4 separate regions of the Homo sapiens genome follow, and regions 2, 3 and 4 are each linked to region 1. Evidence: fine-mapped expression QTL. A gene starts in region 1. Each other region holds a variant in brackets. All regions are shown on one strand. Distances are from middle to middle. Region 1 holds the start of PKIB (cAMP-dependent protein kinase inhibitor beta). Region 2 has its middle 8.8 kb from the start of HSF2. Region 3 has its middle 68 kb from the start of SERINC1. Region 4 overlaps PKIB (cAMP-dependent protein kinase inhibitor beta).

What was found. PIP is the estimated chance that this variant, and not a neighbour inherited with it, causes the effect. A credible set is the group of variants that fine-mapping cannot tell apart.
Region 2: its variant is the best candidate, but not a certain one, in a credible set for the expression of PKIB in nucleus accumbens (GTEx, PIP 0.56).
Region 3: its variant is the best candidate, but not a certain one, in a credible set for the expression of PKIB in monocytes after LPS (Quach 2016, PIP 0.50).
Region 4: its variant is the best candidate, but not a certain one, in a credible set for the expression of PKIB in whole blood (INTERVAL, PIP 0.90).

Annotation. Positions count from the first base shown.
Region 1 is chr6:122,608,345-122,613,386 of GRCh38, forward strand. It overlaps PKIB (cAMP-dependent protein kinase inhibitor beta), which reads left to right and starts at 2,061. Exons shown (of 5, transcript NM_181795.3): 1 at 2,061-2,191. RefSeq lists a silencer at 1,912-2,091 and an enhancer at 2,708-3,353.
Region 2 is chr6:122,388,350-122,393,391 of GRCh38, forward strand. No RefSeq gene overlaps it. Among named protein-coding and RNA genes, the nearest start is that of HSF2, 8.8 kb to the right of the region's middle. RefSeq lists an enhancer at 4,884-5,042. The variant T/C (reference allele first, on the strand shown) is at 2,854.
Region 3 is chr6:122,537,407-122,542,448 of GRCh38, forward strand. It overlaps a transcript of PKIB not described here. Among named protein-coding and RNA genes, the nearest start is that of SERINC1, 68 kb to the left of the region's middle. The variant C/CT (reference allele first, on the strand shown) is at 2,409.
Region 4 is chr6:122,696,904-122,701,945 of GRCh38, forward strand. The region is part of intron 3 of PKIB (cAMP-dependent protein kinase inhibitor beta); the gene reads left to right. Among named protein-coding and RNA genes, the nearest start is that of FABP7, 80 kb to the right of the region's middle. RefSeq lists an enhancer at 1-223. The variant A/G (reference allele first, on the strand shown) is at 3,097.

The DNA of each region.
Region 1 (5,042 bases):
TTTAAAGGCATATATTTGACACAAATTCACAATTCACATGATTGTGTGGAATTACTGCTACCACCAATTCTTGGACTCAAAAACTCCTCCTTGCACTTATGGTCAGGTCGTGTCTAACATTTGCAAAAGCAGCTACTGCAAACCTTTCCGCATCTTCTCCTTACTTTCCTAGTAGAAATGAGAGGCCATCAAAAATCTTAAATCTAAATAGACAAAAGCATTCTATAAATAGTGTTCTTATAAGTCATTATTTGGTCTTAAGTGTGGAAACAAAGTTAATACTTATTCATTTCAAAACGGCCTGTAGAGTACCTACTTTGTGAAGGTACTATTCTAGGTGTTGAGGATATGGCCTTCATGGGCCATACATTCCAGTGGTTCTGATGATTTCATATGTAGGTTAAAAGCTTAGCAGTGAGGTCTAGTGGTTTTCTCACATTGATCCCAAAATACAGATTTTACAAAGCAAAATTTTCAAGTATAGGAAATACACTTGCAGGATCATAAAAATCCAATCATGATACCATAATTCATAAGTTCAAACATTTTAGTATCACTCTCTGTCATAGTACCTCTAAAATAAATAAACCTTAGAATAATTTGCCCTAGATAATAAAAATATATGTTATTATATAATATAATAATAACAGGCCTTAGCAGTATGCCAGATAATAAGTTTTAAAGTTACACTAATGATATAAATAACTCTCAGTCTCTTTGATTAATGCTTGTGTAACCACACAAGTAACTATATTTTTATTAGGCGGGTGCAGAAGCTACTGCAGTTTTTGCCAGTACTTTTTTGCAATTACTTTTGCACTAACCTAATACAAAACAAAATGTGCCTACATCACAATTCAGAAAAATCACAGCTTTATTAGCAGAGTATAATTTAAGGAAGTCAATCAATCCTGAAGGCAGAAAGACCTAAGTTCAAAACTGATTTGGAATCTTCTCAGCTATTTAGCCTTGTTCAAAGTATCTAACCTTGCTGAACCTCAGTTTACTATCTGAAAATAGAGAAAATTATTACTATATTGTGGAGGTATGAATATTGAATAATTTAAAGAACTTGATTGTACTACCATTAGCACACACTGAATAAAATATTAGTCTGATTATATTTTCGTATTTCCATATTTAGGCTTTTGCCTAAAAAGGGAATTTGGAAGTGGTCATTGGCAGGTGTCATAGGCTTTGGGTGGCAAGTCAGAGCATAGTATGAATGAGCAAATTAGTAAAGACTAGAGATAAGAGAAGACTTTGAGTACTAATTAAGAGTTTCAGGAGACCAGAGGAGATTTTAAGACTTCAGTGAGAAACCACTTTCTCAGGAAGCAGATAAATTAATTTTATCAGCAGTATCGTCGTCCATGTAATATGGCTTTTAAAAAGCACAGTGAGACCTTAGTAGTAACGACTTTATTTTTCTTAGTGAGAACCTGAAAGTGAAACTTGATATACATTATTTTCTGCTTTTATTGCACAAAAAGTTGTTTCCATTGCATATTGCTTCCTAATCTGTTAAAATAATCTGTTAACAAACTCGAAGACCCAGATTCGGGGCGTAGATAAGCCTGTGTACCTTCCTACCTTCTCCAAACAGCCAACATTAGATCAAAGGGCAACCTTAATGACACCTGGAGCACAAACCCTGCTCAGGGCGCGTACAACCGGAGGGACAGAAAACACGATGCGACGTCGGAAAGCAGGAAGGGAATTGAAATTCCCGCAGTCACGTCACAGAAATCTTAGCAGAACCTCATCATCGCCCAAGGGAACTGGGAGTGGCGGGCGGGGAGGACGCGGGTTGTGTGACGATCACCGATAATTAGTTGGTGGTTAACGCACAAGTAGGATAAAAGAGCTCGCCCCAGGCTGCCAGCAGAAAAAAGCTACCGTGGCACGTGCCCCGGGGAGTGATGCGGTGGCCCGGTTTGCACGGAGAGCGGGACACCGCCTGGGGAGCCGCGCTCGTAGCCTGGGGGCGGGACGCGGCGGCCGCTCCCTCCGCCCCCGAGTAGCTGCCACCGCCTGGCTGCGCCCCAGCCCAGTAGCTCAGACGCGGCCGCATCCCGGTGGACTGTAGAGGCGGCAGCGAGCTAGAGCCCGAGTCGCAGCTCCGGGCCGCAGAGCGCTGGGCGAGCGCGAGCGCCAGGGCACCGGCAGGGCAGGCAGCTGCGCGCGGCTGGTACGTACCTGGTGGAGCGGGCGCGTGAGTGGGTGTCCCTATGCGAGGAGGGAGGAGTGGGACTTGGGAAGTCGGGGGAGACTGACCCAGGGAAGATGTGGTAAGTGCAACTTTCCTATTTTCTGCCCTGCTGGCACAAATATGGGGGGAGTTCGAAGCAGATGCCTCTTTCGCTTGGGCGACCCGATCCATCGTTTAACTCACAAGTCAGGGTACTTAGAGAGTGAAAAGGACGCTCACGCCAACAGGCGTGACGTGGGAGGTCTGTCACCTGCCTTTTGCCCACTCTGCCCTGCAGGTGGCCATTGATGACCTCCTGTCACAAGTCGCTGAGTCCTTCGGCTCTCGCGCCAGCAATGCCAAGTCTTTCCCCTGGGCGGTGCTTACCAAGCCCCGGGTAGTCACGAGCGGCCGCGGGGTTAGCAGAGACCCGAGTACTAACCCGCTCGGCCAGCGTCCGGCTGTGTGGCTTTAGCCAAGTCACCTCACCTCACTGGCCTCCGTCCATTCTTTGGATAAAATATGGAGGTGGGTAGACCGAGTAAACTCAAGGGTCGCCCGTAGCTATTGGATTTTCCCTGCTCCTAGGACCCCGGCAGGCCGCAGGGAGGGACACGAGTGCCAGGTGGTCGCGGGCTGAGGGAGCGGAGGGCCTGTGTTCCGGTTGGTGCTGATGCTAGCCCCTTGGGGAAATTCCTGAAGGTGCATTTCGGAGCCAAATGACCCTGCCTTGCAGCAGGTCCCTTCCAAGGGAGCTGAGAGGGCCAGGTCAGACCGGTCTTCGTAGAGCTCCCCGGGGAACGCAGCCAACGGAACTCGGGTCCTTTAGAAAAGTGCATGCGTGAACTAGGCATGTGGGAAGCACTAAAACAAACAACAAACAAACAACAAAACACCCTGCAGGTGGTAGTGTTATTAGCTGGAGTCTGTGCAGGACTGGAAAGTGGAGATTTGAGGCGAATGACCACTTAAACGTTCATCTAGAAAAAAAATTTTAAAAAAACTCTTTTATCAGTGGTTTGCATACTGAAAGGTATTGAATTAGAAATATTGCGAGTATTGCATTTCTCTTCGTGTACAGATAGATTTCAAAATTCATCTGTCCACTTTATCTCTTCACAAGATGCCTTCCTTCTTACTGACATTGCCACACATTCAAAAAAAATCCTCCTGGGATTTTATATTTAGAAAGCTCAGCATTTGGATTATTAAAATGAGAACTGATGACCATAATGCTCACGGAAAATGGGGTAGGTTATGGATCAAGTTTGGTTAAATCAGCAGTTTATAAACCTTGTTTCCTGTTAGTGTGCCGGGTGCTGGTCAATGCCCCCCTAGTGACACTATCTCAAGAGATCATTTGCTAAAAAGGTGTTTTGGAAGTTCAAAAGATTCGATTTTGAAGGAAAGTATAGCTTTGGAAAGGAAATCTTTTGGAAAACGTTTTTAGTAATGGACTTCTCAATCTTATCTTTACCACAACTTTCTTCAATAAAATATCAAAGACTAATGGACCACATTATGCAGAATATTTTAAAATGTGTCAAATTTCATTTTTGTTAAAGAGTTTTTCCTCCTTTTTAGTCGATTGCAAACATATTGTTTAGATCAATGATAGATCAATTTAATTTTCCTCACAGTTCTTACAATTATTTAAATTCTTACGCAGTTTGCATTACAGCATTTTTTTACAACTTTATTGAGATATAATTTATATATTATAAAGTTCACCCTTTAAGGGTGAATAATATTTAAAAATTATATTTCAGTGAGTTTTAGAAAATTTGTTAATTTTCTAAAAGTTGTAAAACCATTACCATATCTGGTTTTAGAACATTCCAAAATTGTAAAACCATTACCATATCTGGTTTTAGAACAGTTTACTCACTTGGTAAGATTCCTTATGTCCATTATGTCTTTGTTCCCACTCCCATTCCCAGGCAACCATTAATCTACTTTCAGTCTATAGATTTGCCTTTTCTGAACATTTTATATAAATGGAATGATATACTATATGGTCTTTTGCTTATGGCTTCTCTTACTTAGCATAATGTTTTTGGGGTTCAGCTATGTTGTGGCATGTATCAGTATTTCATTTCTTCTTATTGCTGAATAGTTTTCCATTGTATGGATATACCACATTTTGTCAATTTACTAGTGGATGGATATTTGGGTTGTTTCCAATATGGGAATATTATGAATCATGCTGCTGAGAACATTTGCATTCAAGTGTTTGTGAGTACCCGTTTTCATTTCTCTTGGGTAGATGCTTAACAGTGAAATTGGTAGGTTGTATGACAAACTTGTGTCTAACTTTTAAGGAACACTATAGAGTAATTTTTGTAGAAGTTATATATATAAAAATTTAAAAAATTCTGGAAAAATAAATGTTTCTTACTGGATCATATATGATGTTATATGTATATAGAGAGAGGCTTGGGAGAGGAACCATTGCTTCTCTTCAAATTTAGAGCTGAGGTACAGCAAACACTTTTGAAAAAAATGTCGCAATATTTCTCAGAAACGAGATATTTCTTGCCTAATGTTTTTTAATGCTAAATGAGCATGAATCAGGCTTAATCAAGACTAAATTTTCATTAATGTCAATTGAAAATGAGAAAGCATGCAGTTTGAAAATTGTATTTTAAGTGTTGAGACTTAGCCAGCTCTGAATGGCTGGACAATAAATTCGGTGGTTTTCCATTTCTTCAATGCAAAATTTTAATTGAGTTAGAAAAAACAAAATTATTCTTTCCTCAACATCAAAAATAAACTATACGTCTTGTGAACTATATGTCTTGTGATAAGCATTGTTAATCATGATTCCATATAATTATTTTAAATAATAATT
Region 2 (5,042 bases), 220 kb before region 1:
CCAGCCACTATAAATCAGCAAGGTTAGTAAAATGTTTTTATCAAAGTTGTTTAATATCCAGAGTAGTTGGACTTTTTGGTTGTCACAAGGTTTTGGTATAGTTGAAAGTCCTCCTATAGAGAGTACATTAGCAGTCTCAGTTGCTAAAACAATGGAAAATTATTTTCTCACTGTTCTGGAGGCTAGAAGTCCAAGATCAAAGTGTTGGCAGATCTAGTTTCTTCTAAGACCTTTCTTCTTGGCTTGCCGATGGATTCCTTTTCCCTGTGTTCTCACATAATTACCCCTCAGTCTGTAGGTCTGTGTATTGTCTGCATTTGAATCTCCCCTTCTTATAAGGACACCAGTAATACTAGATCAGGCCTACCTGCATGGACTCATTTTATATCAATTATATCCATAAAGGCCCTATCTCAAAAAACAGTCACATTCTGAGGTACTGGGGGATTCAAATTTCAACAAATAAAGCTTGAGGGGACACAAGTCAGCCCATAACACATAGTATAAAGACCCAAATGATTTATCTGATGGAAACAAGACTCAGGATCAAAGCACACAATGACCTCACTAAGCACCAAAGCAGGAGAACCAAAACATGTTTTTGTTCAATTATGTTCATTTGTTTGTTTATTGCAGATTTTTATATCTTAAAAACATTAAAATAGTTACCATAAAAAAGCAGAACTTTATTACACATTCTAATTCTTATTAGAATAGAGTCTTGTTAACTGGTGACTATAGGTCTTAGCCAGCCTGTGGAAGATCCTGAGTAAGGGCTAAGGGAGCAGCCCAGCCAAGTAGGTGGGTATGGGCGGCAGGGCTCTGCCTCTCATATGGGAATTGGAGTGCAGCCTAGTTATAGGCTAAAGAGAGTCAAATTGGAAGCCTGCCACTTTGAACAGGGGATGTCAAGCACTCACTCTGGGAACATCAGATACAAGAGACTTGGGATACCAGATTTGGTTTGGATTCTTCTAGGGTCATCATACGGCAAATCATAAAGTGATAGAAAGGCATAGGCTTCAAAGTGGAAAAGTCTGAATCAAAACACATGCACACACACACACACACACAAACACACACACACACATATATATATAAAACATGCTGATCGTGAACCTATTAGAATGTAATCGAACCTCTCTGGGTCTCAATTTCAATAAATATCTCTAAACACCAGAACACTAGCTCATTTTGTTTACTATCTTCATTTTTCACAGCTGGCTAGGACTAGAAGAGATAGTTACAGATAATTATGAATTAATTCAGTGGAAAATAAACCAGACCTAAATTGGTCCAAAAGCAATACAGAATATATCTTCAGCCACCAGTGCCCCCAAAAATCACATGTAATAAAGTGTATAGTTTCCTGGCTTTGCATTGTGTTATGAAAATAACAAAGAATAAAGGTATCTCCTTTTATTTCTATCCAAAGGTGAAATCACCCCTGAGCACTAAATATTAGATTATTCTCTGTCTTGCTTAAACATTTGCTATTGCCATAGAAGCATGATGTTGACATTTCTTGTTGCTAGGAGCGTCATAGTGTTGGATACGTATACAATAGCATTCTGTTAGCTCAAACGTGGGGCTTTTTAAACAGCAGCATGCTCTTTTTATATCCTGGTACAGTAATCTAAAGTATAGATTTACCATGCAAATTATACATGAAAATCTGAATTTACTACTACACAGAAATAAAAGCACCAATGCTTAATAATTTATCTTTAAGGAATATTTTTGCAGCATCTCAGAGTGGAAAAAAAATAAAAACCTTGAAACAAAGCAGATGCCCATCAGTAGCAGAATGGCTGAATCTATTGTGCTGCATACAAGCCACAGAATATCATGGAATCTTTAAAAGGAATAAATTATAGCTATGCCAATTGACATGAAAGAGTTTCTACCATGCGTTATCAACTGAGAAAAGCAAAATGCATAAAATTGTTTATATACACCAATGTTCATAGCAGCATTATTCACAATAGTCAAAAGGTAGAAATAACTTGTGTCCATTGATGAACGAATAAAAAAAATGTGGTGTATGCATACAAACGAATATTATTTAGCTTTTAAAAAGACAGAAAATTATGACACATGTTTACAATATGGATGAACCTTGAAGACATGCTAAGTGAAATAAACCAGTTACAAAAAGACAAAGACTGTATGATCCCAAATATATGAGGTAATAGAGTAGTTAAATTTATAACCACAGAAAGTAAAATGGTGGTTGCCAGGGGCTGAGGGAAGGAGGAAAAGCATAAATGTTATTTAATGGGTATGGAGTTTCAGATTTGCAAGATGAAAGGCATTCTAGAGATTGATTGCACAAGAAAGTGAATGTACTTAACGCTATTAAACTGTACACTTAAAAATTGTTAAGATGGTAAATTTTAAATTGTGTATATTTTACTGCAATTAAAAGTAAATTTTAAAAATTGGGAAAATGTTTTATATAAAAATAATGCCAATAAACTCTCTTTATACATATAAATACATATATAACCTACTGTAAATAGAGAAAATTTGGAAGGATGACACCAGGTTGTCAAATGAGTTACCCTGTATGAATGCAAACTAGAGGGAATAGTAGGTCGTTCAAATAAATCAAGAAAATAAATGATATAATCCCTACATTGGAGGCAATGGGAGTTCTCTACAGAGTGATACTCGGAGGCCTTTATTGGCCGTAGTGCTTTTTAGTACGTCTTGAAATATATCTTTAGCCACTAATGCCTACAAAGTCATATGCAATAAAATCTATGACCCCCAGCACTGAAAATCAGCTTCCCAGCTAACTGAACTCATAGTTCAATGTAGGGATCTATTTTGTTGCATCAGTTTAGAAAA[T/C]TTTGCCAGATTTACACTTCTGAGAACTAATCTAAGCCAATTTGATTATCCACAATGACTGTTTTGGTAGCTTCAAAGAGTTAGAGCTAGGTGAAGTTGAGTTGACCAAAACCTTACCACCAGAAAGAAGTTTATATTTTAAAAATATTAAAATAATCGTCATGAAAAAAGCAGAAATTCTGCCACACATACAAAGATGTATTAGCAAGAAGGCACAAAAAGTTATTCACCCTGCTATATAAACCTGATGAAGTATGTTGCATAGAATATGTTGCAGTATTCTAACAGTGGGATTCAGCTAACTTTCAAGAAAGTCAGGTGACAAAAATCTACTCTAAGTAGCAGTATTGCCTTTATAATCTAGGAGAGGAATCTCTTTTTGGAGCCCAGCACCTTAAAGAGCCCTGAATATCATAACACATACCAAAAAATTAATTTATTAAGGAACAAACGGTCACTTCTATCATTTGGAATCCAGCACTCCGTGTTGGCATAGTGTAACTCTAAACATTATTCCAGCAACTAAGAGCTCCAGGAAAATTCTTCTCCTACGCCCTTGAGACACAAGGTTTGCAGGTTGTACTACTTTATGCCCATGCCAGCTGCTTCTGAGTGAGAATAGTTTATTTTTTTGAAATGTTTAATACAATCTGATTATAGTTTCAAAATATTAAGCTTAAAATGTCAAATTTATATGAATGATTTTGTTTTTAAATTAGAAATTTATTAATTATAATTTAATTTTTAATTTTATGATATTTCTAAATATTTTAAAACAAAATGTACAAAAACTTTAATTTTCCTATTTTTAACATGTATTTGAAATACATTTTATAAAATATATTCAGATTTGGTTGTTAAATACAGTTGTACTTTGAATACAACTACATTTCAAATACTTTGATCCAATAGAACATAGGTTATGTGACAACCTTGATGGTGACAATCTAACTGAAATATAGGCAAGAAAAAATAATTTTATGGAATAAATATACAATGATCTACAAATTATATATCTCTATTTTATTAATCATCAAAAACATCATTCCTCCATCAACAGAACACCAAACAATAATTACATTTGATCTTCGTGGATCAAAGTTAATTTAAAAATATTTTGCCAACCTAGTGTCTTATGAAAACTATACATACATTGTTTGTTTGTTTGTTTTTTTGTTTTTTGAGACAGGGTCTCACTCTGTTACCCAGCCTGCAGTGCACTGGCGCAATCACAGCTCATTGCAGCCTTAAACTCCTGGGCTCAAGCAATCCTGCCTTAGCCTCCTGGGTAGCTGGAACTACAGGCATGCACCACCATGCCCAGCTGAAAACTATGATTTGACACATATCTTTTAATTTTATTATTATGAAGATATATTTTTCAAGCTAGGAGACTAGAACATATTTTATTTAAGTTTGTTAGCTTGATTTGCAATCTTTAAAACTTCTGAAATATGGCATGTAAGCCTCTATTTTTACTCTTGCTTCAGGCCACCTAAATCCCCTGAACACTGGGTCTATGAGGATCCTAAGGTTAGGGCACCTAGAGAATAGGCTACCAGTTCAAGATAACACCATTCTCAGGTTAGTCAAAAATGGGGAAAGACAATACACTATTTTTAGTCAATACACATATCCTGAACTTCATTAATTTTACCAAGAAAGAAATCATTTCCACATCCATTGCCCTAGTTAACAAAACTTTGGTATTAATTAAAAAAATAAACATTAAGATTAAATCTTCATAGGAAAAGCATTAGATTAGTCTTTCATATGCTAACTAACCACCCCTGGAGAATGCCTTCCTAATTCGGGTTTTTCAACTGTTAACTTGACTGCCCCTAGGGTGCAGATTACAATTAACTACCACACTATATACTCCTCTTTAAATTGTAGTATTTTAAAGTAAATTATAGCAAATATAACAATTACCATATATAAGGGCTTTATAAATCAAGAGTTCTGCCATTAAGTAGCAAATTTTTTTTTTTTTTTGAGTCAGAGTCTTGCTTTGTCATCCAGGCTGGAGTGCAGTGGCGCAGTCTCAGCTCACTGCAAACTCCGCCTCCTGGGTTCAAGCAATTCTCCTGCCTCAGCCTCCGGAGTAGCTGAGAGCACAGGCGTGTCCCACACGCCTGGCTAATTTTTTGTATTTTTAGTAGAGATAAGGTTTCACCGTGTTAGCCAGG
Region 3 (5,042 bases), 71 kb before region 1:
ACATGCGGTTTTTTGTGAGAACATTTTGGTTTTTTGTCCTTGTGATAGTTTGCTGAGAATGGTGGTTTCCAGTTTCATCCATGTCCCTACAAAGGACATGAACTCATCATTTTTTATGGCTGCATAGTATTCCATGGTATATGTGCCACATTTTCTTCATCCAGTCTATCGTTGTTGGACATTAGGGTTGGTTCCAAGTCTTTGCTATTGTGAATAGTGCCACAATAAACATACGTGTGCATGTGTCTTTATAGCAGCATGATTTATAATCCTTTGGGTATATACCCGTAAGGGGATGGCTGGGTCAAAGGGTATTTCTAGTTCTAGATCCCTGAGGAATCGCCACACTGACTTCCACAATGGTTGAACTAGTTTTCAGTCCCACCAACAGTGTAAAAGTGTTCCTATTTCTCCACATCCTCTCCAGCACCTGTTGTTTCCTGACTTTTTAATGATCGCCATTCTAACTGGTGTGAGATGGTATCTCATTATGGTTTTGATTTGCATTTCTCTGATGGCCAGTGATGATGAGCATTTTTTCATGTGTTTTTTGGCTGCATAAATATCTTCTTTTGAGAAGTGTCTGTTCATATCCTTTGCCCACTTTTTGATGGGGTTGTTTGTTTTTTTCTTGTAAATTTGTTTGAGTTCATTGTAGATTCTGGATATTAGCCCTTTGTCAGATGAGTAGGTTGTGAAAATTTTCTTCCATTCTGTAGGTTACCTGTTCACTCTGATGGTAGTTTCTTTTGCTGTGCAGAAGGTCTTTAGTTTAATTAGATCCCATTTGTCAATTTTGGCTTTTGTTGCCATTGCTTTTGGTGTTTTAGACATGAAGTCCTTGCCCATGCCTATGTCCTGAATGGTATTGCCTAGGTTTTCTTCTAGGGTTTTTATGATTTTAGATCTAACATGTAAGTCTATAATCCATCTTGAATTAATTTTTGTATAAGGTGTAAGGAAGGGATCCAGTTTCAGCTTTCTACATATGGCTAGCCAATTTTCCCAGCACCATTTATTAAATAGGGAATCCTTTCCCCATTTCTTGTTTTTGTCAGGTTTGTCAAAGATCAGATGGTTGTAGATACGTGGCATTATTTCTGAGGGCTCTGTTCTGTTCCATTGATCTATATCTCTGTTTTGGTACCAGTACCATGCTGTTTTGGTTACTGTAGCCTTGTAGTATAGTTTGAAGTCAGGTAGCATGATGCCTCCGGCTTTGTTCTTTTGGCTTAGGATTGACTTGGCAATGCAGGCTCTTTTTTGGTTCCATATGAACTTTAAAGTAGTTTTTTCCAATTCTGTGAAGAAAGTCATTGGTAGCTTGATGGGGATGGCATTGAATCTATAAATTACCTTGGGCAATATGGCCATTTTCACAATATTGATTCTTCCTACCCATGAGCATGGAATCTTCTTCCATTTGTTTGTATCCTCTTTTATTTCATTGAGCAGTGTGGTTTGTAGTTCTCCTTGAAGAGGTCCTTCACATCCCTTGTAAGTTGGATTCCTAGGTATTTTATTCTCTTTGAAGCAATTGTGAATGGGAGTTCACTCGTGATTTGGCTCTCTGTTTGTCTGTTATTGGTGTATAAGAATGCTTCTGATTTTTGTACATTGATTTTGTATCCTGAGACTTTGCTGAAGTTGCTTATCAGCTTAAGGAGATTTTGGGCTGAGACAATGGGGTTTTCTAGATATACAATCAATTCATCTGCAAACAGGTACAATTTGACTTCCTATTTTCCTAACTGAATACCCTTTATTTCCTTCTCCTGCCTAATTGCCCTGGCCAGAACTTCCAACACTATGTTGAATAGGAGGGGTGAGAGAGGGCATCCCTGTCTTGTGCCAGTTTTCAAAGGGAATGCTTCCAGTTTTTGCCCATTCAGTATGATATTGGCTGTGGGTTTGTCATAGATAGCTCTTATTATTTTGAGATACGTCCCATCAATACCTAATTTATTGATAGTTTTTAGCATGAAGCATTGTTGCATTTTGTCAAAGGCCTTTTCTGCATCTATTGAGATAATCATGTGGTTTTTGTCTTTGGTTCTGTTTATATGCTGGATTATGTTTATTGATTTGCATATGTGGAACCAGCCTTGCATCCCAGGGATGAAGCCTACTTGATCATGGTGGATAAGCTTTTTGATGTGCTGCTGAATTCGGTTTGCCAGTATTTTATTGAGATTGTTGCATCAATGTTCATCAAGGATATTGGTCTAAAATTCTCTTTTTTGGCTGTGTCTCTGCCAGGCTTTGGTATGAGGATGATGCTGGCCTCATAAAATGAGTTAGGGAGGATTCCCTCTTTTTCTATTGATTGGAATAGTTTCAGAAGGAATGGTACCAGCTCCTCCTTGTACCTCTGGTAGAATTCGGCTGTGAATCCATCTGGTCCTGGA[C/CT]TTTTTTTGGTTCGTAAGCTATTGATTATTGCCACAATTTCAGATCCTGTTATTGGTCTATTCAGAGATTCAACTTCTTCCTGGTTTAGTCTTGGGAGGGTGTATGTGTTAAGGAATTTATCCATTTCTTCTAGATTTTCTAGTTTATTTGGGTAGAGGTGTTGTAGTATTCTCTGATGGTAGTTTGTATTTCTATGGGATCGGTGGTGATATCCCCTTTATCATTTTTTATTGCGTCTATTTGATTCTTCTCTCTTTTATTCTTTATTAGTCTTGCTAGCGATCTATTGATTTTGTTGATCTTTTCAAAAAACCAGTTCCAGGATTCATTAATTTTTTGAAGGGTTTTTTGTGTCTCTATTTCCTTCAGTTCTGCTCTGATTTTACTTATTTCTTGCCTTCTGCTAGCTTTTGAATGTGTTTGCTCTTGCTTTTCTAGTTCTTTTAATTGTGATGTTAGGGTGTCAATTCTGGATCTTTTCTGCTTTCTCTTGTGGGCATTTAGTGCTATAAATTTCCCTCTACACACTGCTTTGAATGTGTCCCAGAGATTCTGGTATGTTGTGTCTTTGTTCTCGTTGGTTTCAAAGAACATCTTTATTTCTGCCTTCATTTCATTAGGTACCCAGTAGTCATACAGGAGCAGGTTGTTCAGTTTCCATGTAGTTGAGTGGTTTTGAGTGAGTTTCTTAGTCCTGAGTTCTAGTTTGATTGCACTGTGGTCTGAGAGACAGTTTGTTATAATTTCTGTTCTTTTACATTTGCTGAGGAGTGCTTTACTTCCAACTATGTGGTCAATTTTGGAATAGGTGTGGTGTGGTGCTGAAAAAAATGTATATTCTGTTGATTTGGGGTGGAGAGCTCTGTAGATGTCAATTAGGTCTGCTTGGTGCAGAGCTGAGTTCAATTCCTGGGTAGTCCTTGTTTACTTTTGTCTCACTGATCTATCTAATGTTGACAGTGGGATGTTAAAGTCTCCCATTATTATTGTGTGGGAGTCTAAGTCTCTTTGTAGGTCACTCAGGACTTGCTTTATGAATCTGGGTGCTCCTGTATTGGGTGCATATATATTTAGGATAGTTAGCTCTTCTTGTTGAATTGATCCCTTTACCATTATGTAATGGCCTTCTTTGTCTCTTTTGATCTTTGTTGGTTTAAAGTCTGTTTTATCAGAGACTAGGATTGCAACCCCTGCCTTTTTTTTGTTTTCCATTTGCTTGGTAGATCTTCCTCCATCCTTTTATTTTGAGCCTATGTGTGTCTCTGCACGTGAGATGGGTTTCCTGAATACAGCACACTGATGGGTCTTGACTCTTTATCCAATTTGCCAGTCTGTGTCTTTTAATTGGAGCATTTAGCCCATTTACATTTAAAGTTAATACTGTTATTTGTGAATTTGGTCCTGTCATTATGATGTTAGCTGGTTATTTTGCTCATTAGTTGATGCAGTTTCTTCCTAGCTTTGATGGTCTTTACATTTTGGCATGTTTTTGCAGTGGGTGGTACCGGTTGTTCCTTTCCATGTTTAGTGCTTCCTTCAGGAGCTCTTTTAGGGCAGGCCTGGTGGTGACAAAATCTCTCAGCATTTGCTTGTCTGTAAAGTATTTTATTTCTCCTTCACTTATGAAGCTTAGTTTGGCTGGATATGAAATTCTGGGTTGAAAATTCTGTTCTTTAAGAATGTTGAATATTGGCCCCCACTCTCTTCTGTCTTGTAGAGTTTCTGCCGAGAGATCCGCTGTTAATCTGATGGGCTTCCCTTTGTGGGTAACCTGACCTTTCTCTCTGGCTGCCCTTAACATTTTTTCCTTCATTTCAACTTTGGTGAATCTGACAATTATGTGTCTTGGAGTTGCTCTTCTCGAGGAGTATCTTTGTGGCGTTCTCTGTATTTCCTGAATCTGAATGTTGGCCTGCCTTGCTAGATTGGGGACGTTCTCCTGGATAATATCCTGCAGAGTGTTTTCCAACTTGGTTCCATTCTCCCCGTCATTTTCAGGTACACCAATCAGACGTAGATTTGGTCTTTTCACATAGTCCCATATTTCTCGGAGGCTTTGTTCGTTTCTTTTTATTCTTTTTTCTCTAAACTTCCCTTCTTGCTTCATTTCATTCATTTCGTCTTCTATCACTGAGACCCTTTCTTCCAGTTGATCGCATCGGCTCCTGAGGCTTCTGCATTCTTCACTTAATTCTCGAGCCTTGGCTTTCAGCTCCATCAGCTCCTTTAAGGACTTCTCTGCGTTGGTTATTCTAGTTATCCATTTGTCTAATTTTTTTTCAAAGTTTTTAACTTCTTTGCCATTGGTTTGAATTTCCTCCTGTAGCTCAGAGTAGTTTGATTGTCTGAAGCCTTCTTCTCTCAACTCGTCAAAGTCATTGTCTGTCCAGCTTTGTTCTGTTGCTGGTGAGGAGCTGCGTTCCTTTGGAGGAGGAGAGGCACTCTGCTTTTTAGAGTTTCCAGTTTTTCTGCTCTGTTTTTTCCCCATCTTTGTGGTTTTATCTACTTTTGGTCTTTGATGATGGTGACACACAGAAGGGTTTTTGGTGTGGATGTCCTTTCTGTTTGTTAGTTTTCCTTCTAACAGACAGGACCCTCAGCTGCAGGTCTGTTGGAGTTTGCTAGAGGTCCAC
Region 4 (5,042 bases), 89 kb after region 1:
TAGTGGTAGGGTGTCTTAGTCACCTCCTATTTACCCTGTGGGTGAGGGAGAGCTAAACACCACCTGACCCTGAAGAGATGAGACCAACAGCAAGTTATTAGTCATGTCTACTGATGGCCTGGGGGAGGAGGACATGGCACACCTTGCAGGGCCACACAGGAGTTGCACTCAAGAGCAGAGTGAACAACCAGGTCTGTAGGAGGTAGCCTTTGGAGAATTAAGAGGGTAGGGTGCTCCCAGTTCTTGTGGAATGATGTGATTCACTTGTTTGATTTGGCAGGCAAACAGAGAACAAAACCTGCTACTCAAGGATAAATAGAAACTGTGCCTGGTCCCCTTCATAAGGATGGTGGTCTGTCTAGGATACCTGATCTATGGGAGGAGAACTTGTAGTTAGGCCATTAGAGACCTGTTTTATCAGATATCAAGCCTAAATTTTTGGCTTTATGCTACAATTGATCACTTGATGCTTTGACATCAGTTTAAATCTTGATGATAACTGAGACTTTTAGGGATTAGGAGATGTGCCTTCCTAGGAAGCAAAGTAGGCACCTGACCAAGCAGAGAGGGCCACATTTTGAGGTGGTTGCCAAAAACATGAACTTCGGGCATGTCTCCATATATAACCAGTAAAAGCAATTGAGAGACCTGTGTGACATTGATGTAGAGAGTGGATGCTCCCAGGGGGTGTGAATTGAGACTAACCAATGCTTGTGGCAGTGGTGACATCAAGGGGGTAGAGGGACATTTGTCTCATTGTGACTTAAATAGTTCTTTGAAAACCCATTAGGCTTATCAATTAAAGTAGCTGCCTGGGGCTAACTACCTGAGGCCTATGGGAAGGCTGCATTTCAATGGAAAGCTTTCTTCAAGATTCCATTGTGTATTCTGAGACATAAAATGAGTGCCTTGGTAACAATCTAGTGTCTAAAACTGCAAATGAGATAAGGAATATCCTGTTGAGGCCTTGTATTGTGGCCTTAGGATATGTAGAGAAACCTGTTGATTTGGTTTATATATTTATATTTGGGTACCTGTGAAACAAGAGATTCACAGAGTTCTTTAAAGTGAGACCCTTAGGCAATGGTCTAAGAGTTGTAAAAATATACATATGAGGTGAAATGGCCAGGGCATCCATTGCCAAGATAAATGTCTAGAGTGTGCCAATTGTGCTGACCCTTGGGTTCTATTCTTTATCAGGGACATCTTGGTTAAGGAATTAAGAGCAACAACTCTCTACTGAGCTCTATCATGTATAATTGTGGCAACATCATTGGTAAAATGTATGGCCTTCTATTGCCATTCATTCAGTTGATCCCAGGGGGCTCTCCAGGTAGCCAAGGACTCTAGGAAAGGGATGACTTCCCCTAGCACCATGGTTTTGGCAAAGGACTGATGGTAGAGGAGGCCACCACCTTCTACAGATAGAATATGCCAGAAGGGCCAAGCTTGACTCCATCCTGTCGCAAAGAGGTCTCATAGCTAGGCCAGATTCATGGGGGTGCTGCTCCAATGCATTACCAGGCATTGCAGTAGCTGGGTACAGAGGGTCACAGGCTCAAAGTCTGTGAGACCCTCTATTTCCAGAAAAGCCCAGTGTGTGGCCAGTAATTGCCACTGTAATGGTGTATAGTACAAGGCCAGGAAAGGCAGTTTCTTGCATCAGAAGCCCATGAGCAACTTATGACCATCACAGGTGGCCTAGAGACTCCAGGAGGCATGAGATGAGGTCGCTGAAGCCTCTGAGGGCACTAACTGGAGTGCCTGTTGATTTCATTTTGGACAGCTTCTACAGCCTTTTGTTGAGGAGGTTCCCCTTTAAGATGGGCAATCTGTAAGTAACAGCACTAGTGAAATTAAAGAAAATTTGCAAAAGAATATGTTGTCTCCAGAACCCAAAAAAGACTAAAAGATGTTGGACTTGTATTAACCTTGTAGGTACTGAGAGGGTTAATACCTGTTTTTTGACAGTATCAGGGATGGAGCAGCTTTTGCTTTACCAAATAACTTTCAGGAATTTAACAGAAGTCACAGGACTTTGTACTATGTGTGAAATATCCACCCTTTTTGTGTGAGTTCCTTTGTATTTGTATATTCTTAATGAATACGTCAAACAAATCTTCCTGGAGAAGGATGTCATCAATGTAATATACCTGTGCTCCTGGAGAAAGGTGGATGTCATTAAGATCCTGCCTGCAAAGACTGTGTGCAGTAGCAAGGCTGCTGAGGTAGCCCTTGAGTAGCCTGGTAAAAATATATTATGTAGCAGCGCACCAGCATGGCACATGTATACATATGTAACTAACCTGCACAATGTGCACATGTACCCTAAAACTTAAAGTATAATAATAAAAAAAAAAGAATTGCATTTGTGAACTAAAATATATATATATATATTGTGTCTCATGGGAGGTAAAAGCAAACTGTGACTGCTAAACTGCTGACATTGGCACCAAATGGATCATATTAGCCTAATTCATAGTAGCAAAATATTTATCAGTTGCTGATTGGATGGAGTCAGAAGTTTCAATACTCAGTTTGTTGGAAATAGGGACCTGAACTGTATGGGACCATGGCATTAAGGTTGCAGCAGTCTACTGTGCTGCACCATTTATTTGTTCCAGGTTTAAGGACAGGCCAAACAGGCCAGATTGGGTTGTTAAATGGAGAAGCAGTGGGGATAATAACCCCTGCACTCTATAGCTGTCATGTAACAAATTTTAATCCTCAAAAGCCCTGTTTTAAATTACTTTGAGCCATGTTAATAATTATTTTAATTTGGGGTGGAGGCAGAAGAGTCGGGAGTTTCCATCCTGTCAAGCCAATTTATAAGTGTCAAGATTTAATCTAATTTCCATTTATTTTTCATTGGGTCAGAGCGTCCATGTCCATTATGGGATATTTTAGGGCAATGATTGCTATGACCATGATGAGAAATTTAGGCAAGACAGTAATTATGATGGTTAAGAAGAGGCATATCTCTTTGTCCTCTATTTTATATGCCAGAACTCCCCTAATGTTATGGGGGATACCATGTTTAAATTTAGGAAGATCCTAGTCATAACTGTAATCTGAGCCCTAATGCCAGTTAAAACC[A/G]TGAAGGTTTGCCAATTGGTGCATTTCAGCAGGTATTAAAGTTAATTAAGAACCTATACTGTAGAGGCACAAAAGCCAATCAGTGCCCCTTTATCTTGGCTATATAAATGCCTTTAATATATTTTGAATTTCCAATTGGGTCAAATTGTAGATCTTTGTTTTAGGGTTCTGTTGTTGTTGTTGTTGTTGTTGTTGGTTCCTCCCCGTATCCAGGATATTTTTTTCTTTGCTTTTTAAAATTTCTTTTCTTTCTTTTTTTTTTTTTTTTTTTTTTTAGTGGTGGTCACTGGACATATTTGGTGGTGGTGGGGTGGTGGTGTGGGATCCTCTTTACCCTGATGATACTTATAAGTCTTTTCTCTCAGAGAGCTTCAAATTAGTATCATCAGGGTTAGGGGTTTCCCCCACAGCAATGGTTGCTTTATATGGTTTAAAGACCCTGGGCTTAAGTTGAGTTTGAATTAATGGTGCCATGGGGTACCACAGTGCCACAAAGGTAACATAGGTATTTCTCTATAACCTCAAGGATTAGGATCTTTATTGCAACAGAGACATAGTAAGCAGAGTGGTACAGGGAAAGAAAGCTAGGTTTATAACCCAGACTCAATAGACCAAAATTATCTCCTGCTGCCACTGCCCTACCGTTTCTGTCGTGTGGACTTTTTCCCTCTTTGTTTGTTTCTTTCTCTGCACAAATTCCCTGAGAATATTTTGAGTTTTTAGCTAGGTGAAATTGGAGCTTTCTGTAAAATCACCTGTGGTGCAAACTTTCTGGGTACTTATGGGAAAACATTAGGGAGCTTAGTGGCCTTTCTCAGAAGTGGCTGCCTCTTCCTCTAGGAAGTGCGAGTCCATCTCTCTAGAGTTGAGGTCCATATCCAGTAAAGTCATTAGTCTATGGCTTGGATAGGGCCAGCAAGCCCATGATTGCAAGATTGGCCATTTGGTGTGCTAGTAGGCAGCAGTGCTGAGCCCAGGCATACTGGCTATGGGTTTTGCATTGGCAAATCATTTGAGTACCAAATGCTCCTTCCTCTCCCCACCCTTTTCTTTTTTCATTAGCACCTGTGCCACAGGCCACCATGGATCTGCACCTCGATGCCCTTCGGAGTCATGAGAGTGCAAGCAATAGCAGCTCAGGAAGCAGCAGCAGAGGAGACCAGAAAGGTCACTACCTTTGCATGAACAACAATGGCAACCAGGATACCATGCTTGGTTCTCCATGGTGTGGCCACTTTCCTTCCCACAAACCTCACACAGGGCTGCCTCTGCGCCTGTTCCATAGGTGTACCATTACAAGCAATGTCTGTATTGCTGCTCCAAGCAGCCAGTGACAGTCACCAGGCTAGACATGGTGATCAGAGAGCTCTAGCCTGAGCTCTGGTAAGCAGGAATGAAGTACTGACTGGTTAAGGCACTGTTTTCTCATTGCATTTACAGGCTGAAGCTTCAGAGATCACCTGCCAAACACAGGCTGAACCTGACAGCATGTCACACCAGGGTATAGTTAACAACCATTTTCTTCTTGGGGACAAGAGCATTGCAGAGTTAAAAGAGATGGCATAACAGTGCCACATAGGCCATAGCTCAAGCCCATCAGCAGTTAGCAGTTCTGTCTCAGGTACCCTTGCCAAATAACTCAGAACCAAATAACCAAGGAACAGTTAATTTTAACTGACTAGGTGTCTTCTGAAATGGTTGGGCATGTCATATGGTTCATAACACCAGTGGATTTTATTGCTTTCTATTCACCCCATTGGTGAACGAAAGATTCCTGCCCTGGAGATTCAGAGATGCCTAGACAACCAACACCCAACACTGGACAGATGAGATCCACAGCAGTTTACTGGTCATACATACCACCAAAGGAGAAGAACATTGCAGGGCATGCAGGAGCATGTGAGGGTTGTAACCAGGAATAGTATGAACAACCAGGGGCTGTGGGA